Linked DNA regions of Homo sapiens: region 1 is linked to region 2. Evidence: fine-mapped expression QTL. A gene starts in region 2. The other region holds a variant in brackets. All regions are shown on one strand. Distances are between the middles of the regions.

Region 1 (5,366 bases), 32 kb after region 2:
AGGGGTGATGCGGGCTGTGGATTTCATTTTAAGAGAGATGGGGAGCCACTGGAGGGATGTTGAGCAGAGGAATGACTAGAAGTAGTTGTAATAAATCTCTCTCCACACACACATGCGTACTCGCTCCCTCTCCTCTCCCCTCCCCTCCCCGCTCCTCCCCTCCCCACTCCTCTCCTCTCTGTTGGTTCTGTTTCTCTGGAACACCCTAATATGGGCACCCTTCTCATATATCTGGAGTCAAACGCAGGCTCAGTCTGAAACTTCAAAAATCTGAACAATGCTAACCACGGGATTCTCGAGCACGTACGTGGCCAGGTACTGTGGTGAGAGCTTTTCAGATATTCCCTTATTTCATGTTCACAGTATCATCTCGAGGAGGCACTCAAGGTGGCTGGGCCTGGCCCAGGGTCACACAGGCACCAGGTGGTGAAGTGGCCCAGCCTGGGGTCCGTCCTAACCCTAACGTGGGCAGCATCTCTTCATTCTGTATTTCAGGGCATCCAGGGAGCCCTTCTGACAAGGGTGTCCAGAAGCTGTGCTCCCTGGATGCCCAGTGGCTTCATCTTCCCAGCCTTTCCAGCTCATGGTGGGATCAGGAGGGTGGCTGGAGAGTTCTAGGCCATCTCTTTAGAAGACACTCTGCCTGGGCTGGGTGTGGTGGCTCACGCCTGTAATCCCAGCACTTCGGGAGGCCGAGGCAGGTGGATCACCTGAGGTCTGGAGTTTGAGACCAACCTGGCCAAAGTGAAACCCCATCTCTACTAAAAATACAAAAATTAGCTGGGGGTGGTGGCATGTGCCTGTAATCCCAGTTACTCGGGAGGCTGAGGCAGGAGAATTGCTTGAGCCTGGGAGGCAGAGGTTCCAGTGAGCCGAGATCACACAACTGCACTCCAGCCTGGGCTACAGAGCAAGACTCTGTCTCAAAATTAAATAAATAAATTAATAAAATTAAAAAAAAAAGACACTGTGCCTCGAGGGAGCTTGTTGGGAGGGGCTGGGCCAGGCTGGTGCAGCCCTAGGTCTCGTGCCTGGGAGAGTGGGAGGCACGATGCAGTGGCCAAGCTCCAGAGCCAGACCAGCTGGGGTCAGGCCCAGCTCTGGCATTTCCCTGCTACATGGCCCCGGGCAAGTCACTTGCCCTCTCTGTGCTTCAGTTTGGTCAGCTATAAGATGGGGATACTTAGAGTGGCCTTCTGATCAGGTTGGCCTGAGGAATAAACAAGGCTAGTATGTTTTGTGAAGCTTGAAGTGTGCTAGGCACACACCAGGTGCTGTGAAGTATTGGCTTTCCTTCACTATTCTTAACTTAGACAGCTGACGGGATAGGTCAGGAAAAGGAGAACATTCCAAGGTCAGGTAGGAACATTGCAGGGATCCCATGGTCACCTCCATGTGCCGCATGCCAGCCCATCCTTCCACTGTCCTGCTGATCCAGCCCCCAAAGCCCCCTCTGTGAGCTTGCCCTTGACCTGTCTTGTGGGGCGTTGCACTTTCTTTTTTTTTTTTTTTTCCGAGATGGAGTCTTATTCGGTAGCGCAAGCTGGATTGCAGTGGCGTAATCTTGGCTCACTGCAGCGTTTGCCTCTGGGGCTCAAGAAATTTTCCTGTCTCAGCCTCCCAAGTAGCTGGGAGTAGAGGCGTGCGCCACCACACCTGGTTAGTTTTTTTGTTATTTTTAGTAGAGACAGGGTTTCACCATGTTGCCTGGGGTGGTCTTGAACTCCTGCATTCAGGCGATCCACCCGCCTCAGCCTCCCAAAGTGCTGGGGTTACAGGTGTGAGCCACCGTGCCTGGCCAGGCTTTGCACTTTGTCCTTTAAGTGTCCTCTTTTGTGCCTGTGTCCCTATGCCTCTCCTGTAAGACCTAAGCTCCAAGAGGCCAGGGCCACCTCTCTCTGTCTCTCTCTCTTCCTCCCACTCTCCCTGCCTTCCTTCCATCTTCCCTTCCTTCCTTTTGTATCCTGCATGGCATGTAGCATGAAGCCTCACCTGTTTTGCTTAATGCATGAATTAAAGGAAGCCATTTAATAACTAAATGTCTATTTATTGACTAAAAATAGGCCTGTCTTAGAAGGTTACTATCTTAGTCTTCTCAGGCTGCCATAAGAAAACACCATAGATTGGTGGCTTAACAAGCAGGCATTTATTTCCTCACAGTTCTGGAGGGTGGAAGTCTGAGATCAGGGTGCCAGCAGGGCTGGGTTCTGGAGAGGGCTCTCTTCCTGGCTTGCAGATGGTCGCCTTCTTTCTGGGTCCTCACATGGCAGAGAGAGAGAGAGAGAGAGAGAGAGAGAGAGAGAGAGGGAGAGAGGGAGAGAGGGAGAGAGAGGGAAAGAAAGTGAGAGGCAGAGACAGATTGGGAGAGCTCTCTGGTGTCTCTTCTTCTAAGAACACATTGGCCGGGCACGGTGACTCATGCCTGTAATCCCAGTACTTTGGGAGGCCAAGGCGGGCGGATCACAAGGTCAGGAGGT[G/C]GAGACAATCCTGGCTAACACGGTGAAACCCCGTCTCTACTAAAAAAATACAAAAAAAATTAGCCGGGCGTGGTGGTGGGTGCCTGTAGTCCCAGCTACTCTGGAGGCTGAGGAAGGAGAATGGCGTGAACCCAGGAGGCAGAGCTTGCAGTGAGCCGAGATCATGCCAGTGCACTCCAGCCTGGGCGACAGAGCGAGACTCCATCTCAAAAAAAGAACAAAAAAAAAAAAATAAAAAAAACATAAGAACACTAATCCCTGGCCAGATGCTGTGTCTCACATCTGAAGTCCCAGCACTTTGGGAGGCCAAGGTAGATCTCTACTAAAAATACAAAAAAATTAACTGGACATTGTGGTACACACCTGTAATCCCAGCTACTTGGAAGGCTGAGGCAGGAGAATCGCTTGAACCCAGGAAGCAGAGGTTGTGGTGAGTCGAGATCGCGCCACTGCCCTCCAGAGTGAGACTCCATCTTGTTGGAGGGGGTGGGGAGGAAGAACACTAATCCCATCAGGACAGCCACACCCTAGTTACCTAATCTCATCTAACCCTAACTGCCTCCCAGAGGCCTCACCTCCAGATACCATCACACTGGGGGCTAGGGCTTCCACATATACATTCTGGGGATCTAAATGTTTAGTCCATAATAGCCACCTAATGGCTGGGCCTGGTGGCTCACGCCTTTAATCTCAGAGCTTTGTGAAGCTGAGGTGGGAGGATTGCTTGAGGACAGCAGTTCCAGACCAGCCTGGGTGTATTAGTCTGTTCTCGTGCTGCTAATAAAGACATACCTGAAACTGGGTAATTTATAAAGGAAAGAGGTTTAATGGACTCACAGTTCCACATGGCTGGGGAGGCCTCACAATCATGGTGGAAGGTGAAGGAGGAGCAAACTCACGTCTTACACGGTGGCAGGCAAGAGCGCATGTAGAGGTGAACTCCCATTTCTAAAAACATCATGGTAGTGAGACTTATTCACAACCAGGAGAACAGTATGGGGGAAACCTACCAACCCCGTGATTCAATTATCTCCACCTTAACAGCTGGGGATTATTACAATTCAAGGTGAGATTTGGGTGAGGACACAGCCAAACCATATCACTGGGCAACAGAGCGAGACCCTGTCTTTACAAAAAAATTTAAAAGTCTACATAATAGCTATATACTTAGTAGAGCATTTCACTCTAAAGCAGTGATCCTCAACTGAGGTGACTTTGTCCTCCCCACCCAGGGGACACGTAGCAATGTCTGGAGACAGTTTGTTTATTTTTTAGACAGAGTTTCGCTCTTATTACCCAGGCTGGAGTGCAATGGCGTGGTCTCGGCTCACTGCAGCCTCTACCTCCGGGGTTCAAGCAATTCTCTTGCCTCAGCCTCCCAAGTAGCTGGGATTACAGGCATGCGCCACCATGCCCAGCTAATTTTTGTACTTTTAGTACAGGTGGGGTTTCGCCATATTGGCGAGGTTGGTCTGGAGCTCCTGACCTCAGGTAATCCACCCGCCTCGGCCTCCCAAAGTGCTGGGATTACAGGCATGAGCCACCACTCCCGGACTGGAGACAGTTTTGATTGTCACACTGGGTGGGAGGTGTTGCTGGCATCTGGTAGGTGGAGGCCAGGGATGCTGCTGAACATCCTACAGGACACAGGACGGCCCCTATGTCAAAAAAATGTTCCTGTCCCAAATGTCAGTGATGGCCAAGTTGAGAAACCCTGGTTTAAACAAGGGTCTACCAGGAGAGAAGAGGGGACCCTGGAGTCTGCCTATGCCAAGTCTAGAGTTGTGCTGTTGGCTTCACAGCCTTTGTAGCCAGCTTTTGTAGCAATACCCTCAGCCTTGTGCTGGGCCCTGTCTGCCTGGCAGACTCTCTTCGTCCAACTCTTCTTCTTTCTCTGCCCTTTGTGAGCTATGAAAGCTCATCAAGTCAGTGGATCTTATCATGAAAGCCCCACTAAGCACTGCCGTTCTAAAGTCCCCGCCCCTGGTGGGCTTGTGTGCACCGTTTTTCAAACAAGCCCATTTCTTCTAGCCACGGAGAAATGTGAGATGACATTTTCTAAAATTGTCACTTTGTAAAAATGCCAAGATGAGTCTCAAGGCACAAAGAACATTGTGGAAATCAGAACTGACTTGGGAAGTGGTGGCTTGCAAAGGTTGGATTTAAACGGCAGGTGCCGTGGGCTTATGTTGTTGGGTTGTGGTGGTTTTCCGGTTGATACCGCTTCCTGAAGATGAGGATTTCTAGAAAATTTCTCCAGCTAAATAATGATCTGTCACTAGTTTGGAGGCTGCAAATAATCTGCTGGCTTTAGAAACTGTCTGTGCTTCACACAGTCTGTTGGTGTCCATCTTACTTATTTTCATAACGTTTTTGGCCGGGGTAGGCTGTTAGGAGGCAGGTTGATTGATGTTTTTCCATTTTTTCATTGAAGACATGAGTGTCTGCAAAAAAAAAAGCCCAGTATAACTTTGTTTTAAAGTGCTCCTATTTTTATTTTTATTTTTTAAAAGATAAAGCTCTCCTGTTTTATTCAAATGCATTTAAAATTCTCAGAAGTTTGGCCTCTTTAAGAAAAAGAAACAGTCAAAAACAGTAATCAAGTATAAATTGGGGAGGCCTGCAGAGCTCTGGTCCAGCTAATTCCTTGGGTATATAAAGCAGACACTGATTCTGGGAGAGGAGGGAATGCAGAGTCTGGTTGCTAGGCAATGGTTCCCATGGGACAGAAGCATCGATGGGTTGGCTGTAGACTACATAAAAGATGGGGCAGGACAGAAGGAAGGAGGATGCTCAGATACTATTCCTCCATCTCCTGTTTCTGAGATGGAGAAAAAAAGACACACAAACCCCCCCAGGGTGGTTGCAGGGTTGCTGTGTAATTAGCAG
Region 2 (5,366 bases):
GTTCTATTTCTAGCGCCTATCACTGACTCATATTGTGACCTTGCTGAGGTCATGGCTCTGTTTTATTTGTTGGGGGAAAAATTTAGAGGTGGCAAAGCTTGTATTTCCCCCAAGGGATGGGAGCTCTGGAATCTGAGATACCTCCCTGCTCCCTACAAAGCCCAACCATGTCTAGTTCTGCTGATATTAATGAAAAGAATGCTTACATTTGGATCCAAGGAACTTTGGGGGACACTCGAGGAAACAAATTGTTCCTGCCATCGCAAGATTTGTGGCCACTTTTATTGGCAATATTTCTCCAAAGACCTTTCAAATCATGTTCCCATACAAATACTTCCCCATGCGGCCCTCACGTTGTCTGTGGAAAGGAAGAAGAAAGGTATTTTTTCATTAGTTTCAGGATGAGGAAATCAAGGCTAGGAGTGGTATTTCTCAATAGGTTTGTTACCAAGAGCCCCTCTTAATATTTTAGTACCATGCATTCCCCTGTTTTGCAAGTCCTTGTCAACTAAATACTTGCATTTATTCAGTAGAAATTCATCTCTGTTTTTCTTAAAGTCACCTATGAATGCCGGTTCTGCACAAAAGGACTAGTGCTACCATTAAGTTCACTGGCAAGAATTGCAGTATTTAATCCGGGAGACCTCCTCAAAGATAAAGGCCTAATTTTCACCAGACTTTTTTAAATTTTGAAAAGACCTCCTCTTCATAGTATCTGGGGACCCAGGCTAAGAAGTCCCCAGAGAGATCAAGTGGCTTGTGAAAGATTCTGTGGCTAGTGGTGGGGCCAGGACCAGACCCAGGGTCTTGATTCATATAGGTCAGTGCTCCAGCCAACCAGACCACTTGGCAGGGAGGGCTTGTGTACACACCCAGACATACAGACACGCGGGCATGCACGTGCAAGATGGCAGCCCAACCAAATGCGGGTGTCATGAAACCATGATGCTAAGGGCTCAAACCAGTAATAGGTTCCCCTCAGTACAGGAGGGAGCAGGCAGAACCAAGCCTGAGATTGGCAGAGTGCAACAGTTCGGTTCAGGCTGCTTTTGCAGAGTTGCAAGGGTGGGAGATGTGTTTATTCTGCCACCTGCCTGCACTTTGTGTGACTCTTCAATAATTTATACATCATTTATGTAGGCAGAAGCATTTTCATCCACTCTGGGAGCATTCAGACCACTCCTCCCGACACCTGCCTCTTCAAGAGCATGAGACTGGGGTGGGGAAGCTGAGCCCTTGAAGTTGGGGATGGCAATGGCAAATTGGGCACCCTGGGAGAGTGGAGACAGAGACGGAGAACTGAGGGAGGTCTGGCTTAGTGGCCTGGAATGTAAGTAGGGGAAAAGCTGCAGGACTCCAGGTGCCTCAAAGCTTCCCCCTGGGTCTCCCCCGCCTCTTCCCCAGGGCTCCTGCAAATATGCTCATCTGTTGAGCCCTTGGCTCCATCCCAGGGGATCAGTTTTTTCATCCCATGGCTCAGAGGCATCAAGTCGGCCTGTACCTTTGGAAGAAGGCCGAGGGCTTAGCTTTATGGCTTCAGAATCCGAGGCTCCACCAATCCCCAGCATGGCCAGGGGCCAGGGAAGGGTCTCTGGGAGCCTGCTGCCCAACAGCTGTTCCCTGGGTTATTTTGGTCTAGTGGGAGTCTGTCAATTCTAGGGCATTTGGACCAAAATAGCCAACAGCGGGACAATCTCTTGGTAGCTCTGTGGGGACCCCTCCCCATATAGAAGTTTCTAGAATGAGGTGGGACAGAAAGAAAGGAGTTTGGCATCGGGGTGGTGAAGAGGGAATTTTCCTGCCAGTGTCAGAGGCTGACATCAGCATTTCCTCACTGTCCTTTCATCTCAGCCTTGGCACGTTCCTGACTGCCTCCCTAGGCTATCCAAGGTGGGGTTTTGAGGGGGAGAGAGGAAAAGATAATTTTTGAACTTTGTTCTTGACTTCTTGGTCCTCCCCCAAAGCTGATGAGATATATATTACCTTTTTCCATTTCACAAATGGAGCTACCAGGTCCACAGAGGCAGAGGTACTGGTCTGAGGCCACACAGCTTGGAAGCCAGGCCTGGTGACTCCAGGCCTCAGAGCCTCAGCAGCTGGACCTCTCAGACCAGCAGCTGATCCTTGCATGGATGCCAGTTCCATCCAGAAGTTCGGGGCCGGCATGGAAAGTGCTGACTGGCCCTGCAGGCCACAGCGGGGGCCCTGGCAGCCACTTGCCTCGCTCACCCTCCAGCCTAAGATGGTTCAAGTGCAGGTGGGGGAGGGAAGAGGGAAGACCAGTCACTCACTCTCTCCCCTTGGAACCCCGCCCAAATTCAGACCAGCAGACCCTGGCGCGGCACCCGAGAACCTGCAGGGATTGCCCCCGGAGCAGAGTCAGAGTGACCCAGGTCCCACTCCCTTTGGCGACATAGGGTGGCGTGCAGGGAGCGTGCTTTGGCACCAGGCGGGCGCGAGGGGGCAGGGCGCACGCCCGGGACACGCCTTAGGGAAACCGCTCCTGGGCTTGGTAGCTGAACTTAGACGTCGAGTGCAGCCCGCCCGGTGCGCGCGGCGTCTTACTGCCAGATCTCGGAAATCAGCTGCCAGGGTGGGGCCGCGTTTTGGCGACGGCCACTCGGCCACCCCTGCCGCTCCCGCCTCTCCCAAGAGATTTTTCTAGCGGGTTAATTTCCTGTCCGGGTAAACCCTTTGGTGAGTCCCTCGCCCCTCCCTCCCCGCCCCTCCCCTCTCCATCCCTGCTGTCCCGGCTCCCCAGTCCGTCCGCGCCGCGCTCCATCGCCCCCGCACGCCCGGGCGCACGCCCTCCCCGCCCGGGCCGCCCTCTGGCTCCCCGCGCCCGGCAGCCAGTGCCTCACCGCGCCGTCCCGCGCCAGGGCTCGCTCCGAGAGCCGCTTCCTTCTCGCCGCGGCCGGCGCGGGCCCCCCGGCCATGCGCCCCCGAGCCCCAGCCTGCGCCGCCGCGGCGCTCGGGCTCTGCAGCCTTCTGCTGCTGCTCGCGCCCGGGCACGCGTGCCCCGCGGGCTGCGCCTGCACCGACCCGCACACCGTGGACTGCCGCGACCGCGGGCTGCCCAGCGTGCCAGACCCTTTCCCCCTGGACGTGCGCAAGCTGCTGGTGGCCGGCAACCGCATCCAGCGGATCCCCGAGGACTTCTTCATCTTCTACGGCGACCTGGTCTACCTGGACTTCAGGAACAACTCGCTGCGCTCGCTGGAGGAGGGCACGTTCAGCGGCTCGGCCAAGCTCGTGTTCCTCGACCTCAGCTACAACAACTTGACCCAGCTGGGCGCCGGCGCCTTCCGCTCGGCCGGGAGGCTGGTGAAGCTTAGCCTGGCTAACAACAACCTGGTGGGCGTGCACGAGGACGCCTTCGAGACCCTGGAGTCGCTGCAGGTGCTGGAGCTCAACGACAACAACCTGCGCAGCCTCAGCGTGGCCGCCCTGGCCGCGCTGCCCGCGCTGCGCTCCCTGCGTCTGGACGGGAACCCCTGGCTGTGCGACTGTGACTTCGCCCACCTCTTCTCCTGGATCCAGGAGAACGCATCCAAACTGCCCAAAGGTGAGCCGAGCCGGCTAGGCTGGGGGAGGGAGGGAGGGGGGCAGGGAGAGGCCACCCCAGACCCCAGTCTGGGTGGGAGGAGCCGTGGGTTGAGTTTGGAAGAGGAGGCTTGGGGGATCCTGAACTTTTCCTGGGTCTCTGCTGGGGAAGTGGGTGGAGAGGGACGCATCTGGAATTCTTTGGAGTTTCTGAACCCTGAGGCTGTACTTCTTCCCCTGTTTCTCCAGTAACTCACTTTACCAAGTTAGGGACCTTCCCCTTCTCGGGATGCCCAGGATCATCTCCCTGGGCTTTGGGTCCTAGGACTGGCGGGTGTGGATTACTTATGCGTCCCTGGTAAGCGGAATGCAGCCTACTCTATGGGAAACGGCCGTATTCTCAGTACCGTGCACGGGGAGTCAGCCAGTTCCAAGGGCTCTCCAGCAGCTTCCCGAGCCTAACCTGGCCTCTCAGCTTCTCAGCTCCAGTTTGCTCTTCTGTCTAATATGGGTGAGGAAGATTTCTGATGTGGAATAATGGCAGCCCATTAAGAGCCAATGATGCAGTAATGATTTGTAGTTCTCTGTGGCTTTTCAGCCAGATGTGAAAAAGCTGAACCAAAATGTAGAGGGCTGGTGCCCCCTTTGCTTTCCTGGTGCACGCTTCCAATGGCGGCGTGGGCATAAAAACTCACTTGGCAGATGGGAACACCAGGGCGGAGGGAGTTAAGGGGCTCCATTAAGGCCCGCAGGAAGGGAGCACGGGTGGAGCTGAGAAGGAGGGGACCCCAGCATCCACAGGGATGAGCACCCAGAGTGAGGAGGCAGGTGGCAGGTGGGTGTCCTTCCCCCAAGTGGATTCCAGCCTCCCACTTGTGACCCTGTGAGCACCAGTGCCCGCAGTGACCTCTCAGAGCTGAACTCTGCCTCCTGCCTTGCTCCCAAGATTTCAGCAGAATTGGGACCACAGCTGCAAGGCGCACATCATCAAAGGTGACATACATGCAGATTTAGCTTCAGAATATTTTTTTTTCCATTTACGGAGAAATCAAGGATGCTGTTCATCTGTGTGCTGAACTCCTGCATTCATATCTTCATTCCCAACTGTCATCAAACACACCCCATGCTTCGGGGTGCTCACTCTTCAGCAAATGCAGGCCCCTGAGCCATCACTTTCAGCCCAGGCTGGCTGAAATTCCTAAAACGATCTGGCCTGCAGGGTGCAGAGTCCCCACCTTTAAACTTTGTCCTCATCCACTTGTCTGGTTTCCCAGACCCTGCCCACCAGTAGACTCGGTCCTGGAGACAGGAGTGACCGGATGAAAAGCTCATGGTGGGATGGGGTACACCTCGGTTCTGCTTGCTTCTGCCTTTCCTTTTCAGTGGGGTTGGCACCATTCACCCCTGTTGTTGGTTGGGTTGGTTTATTGGCTCCAGTTGTCTTCCAGGTGAAGGCAAGGTTTTATGAAGTCAGGAGCTGTGGGTTTGTCTCAGTTCTGCCATGGTGACTGTGACCTTGAACAGGCCACTTGTCCCATTTGGGCCTCAGTTTCCTCATCTCTAGAATTCTTGCGTTGACCTCTGAGATCTCCAAAGAGCCCTGGATTTGGAATCTGAAGACATGGATTTAAGTCCTGGCCTAAAATCTGGGGGACTCTGGGTGGGTCACTCCAGTTTTTTAAGCTTCACCTTTCCCTTGAGTGAAATCAAGACATGGGTAATGCTGCATAGTCCATCCCACCCAGTGGTTGTCGAGATCCAAACAAGGTGATGTGAGTGAAAGTAACGAGCAATGGAAGTGAAATGTTCCTCCTCCTGCTGTC

Alleles and levels. Alleles are on the strand shown, and positions count from the first base shown. SD is a standard deviation of normalised expression in the study named.
As copies of G replace C in region 1, the expression in adrenal gland of the gene that starts at base 2,525 in region 2 goes up (small effect, 0.28 SD a copy in GTEx).

What was found.
Region 1: its variant is fine-mapped to the expression of LRRC38 in adrenal gland (GTEx, PIP above 0.99).

What each region holds. Positions count from the first base shown.
Region 1 is chr1:13,478,729-13,484,094 of GRCh38, reverse strand. The region is part of intron 1 of LRRC38 (leucine rich repeat containing 38); the gene reads left to right. Among named protein-coding and RNA genes, the nearest start is that of LRRC38, 33 kb to the left of the region's middle. The variant G/C (reference allele first, on the strand shown) is at 2,478.
Region 2 is chr1:13,511,162-13,516,527 of GRCh38, reverse strand. It overlaps LRRC38 (leucine rich repeat containing 38), which reads left to right and starts at 2,525. Exons shown (of 2, transcript NM_001010847.2): 1 at 2,525-3,565. The coding sequence starts at 2,935. LOC107984918 (a long non-coding RNA gene) reads right to left here and starts at 3,308. Exons shown (of 3, transcript XR_001737896.2): 1 at 3,187-3,308; 2 at 1,984-2,237; 3 at 264-358.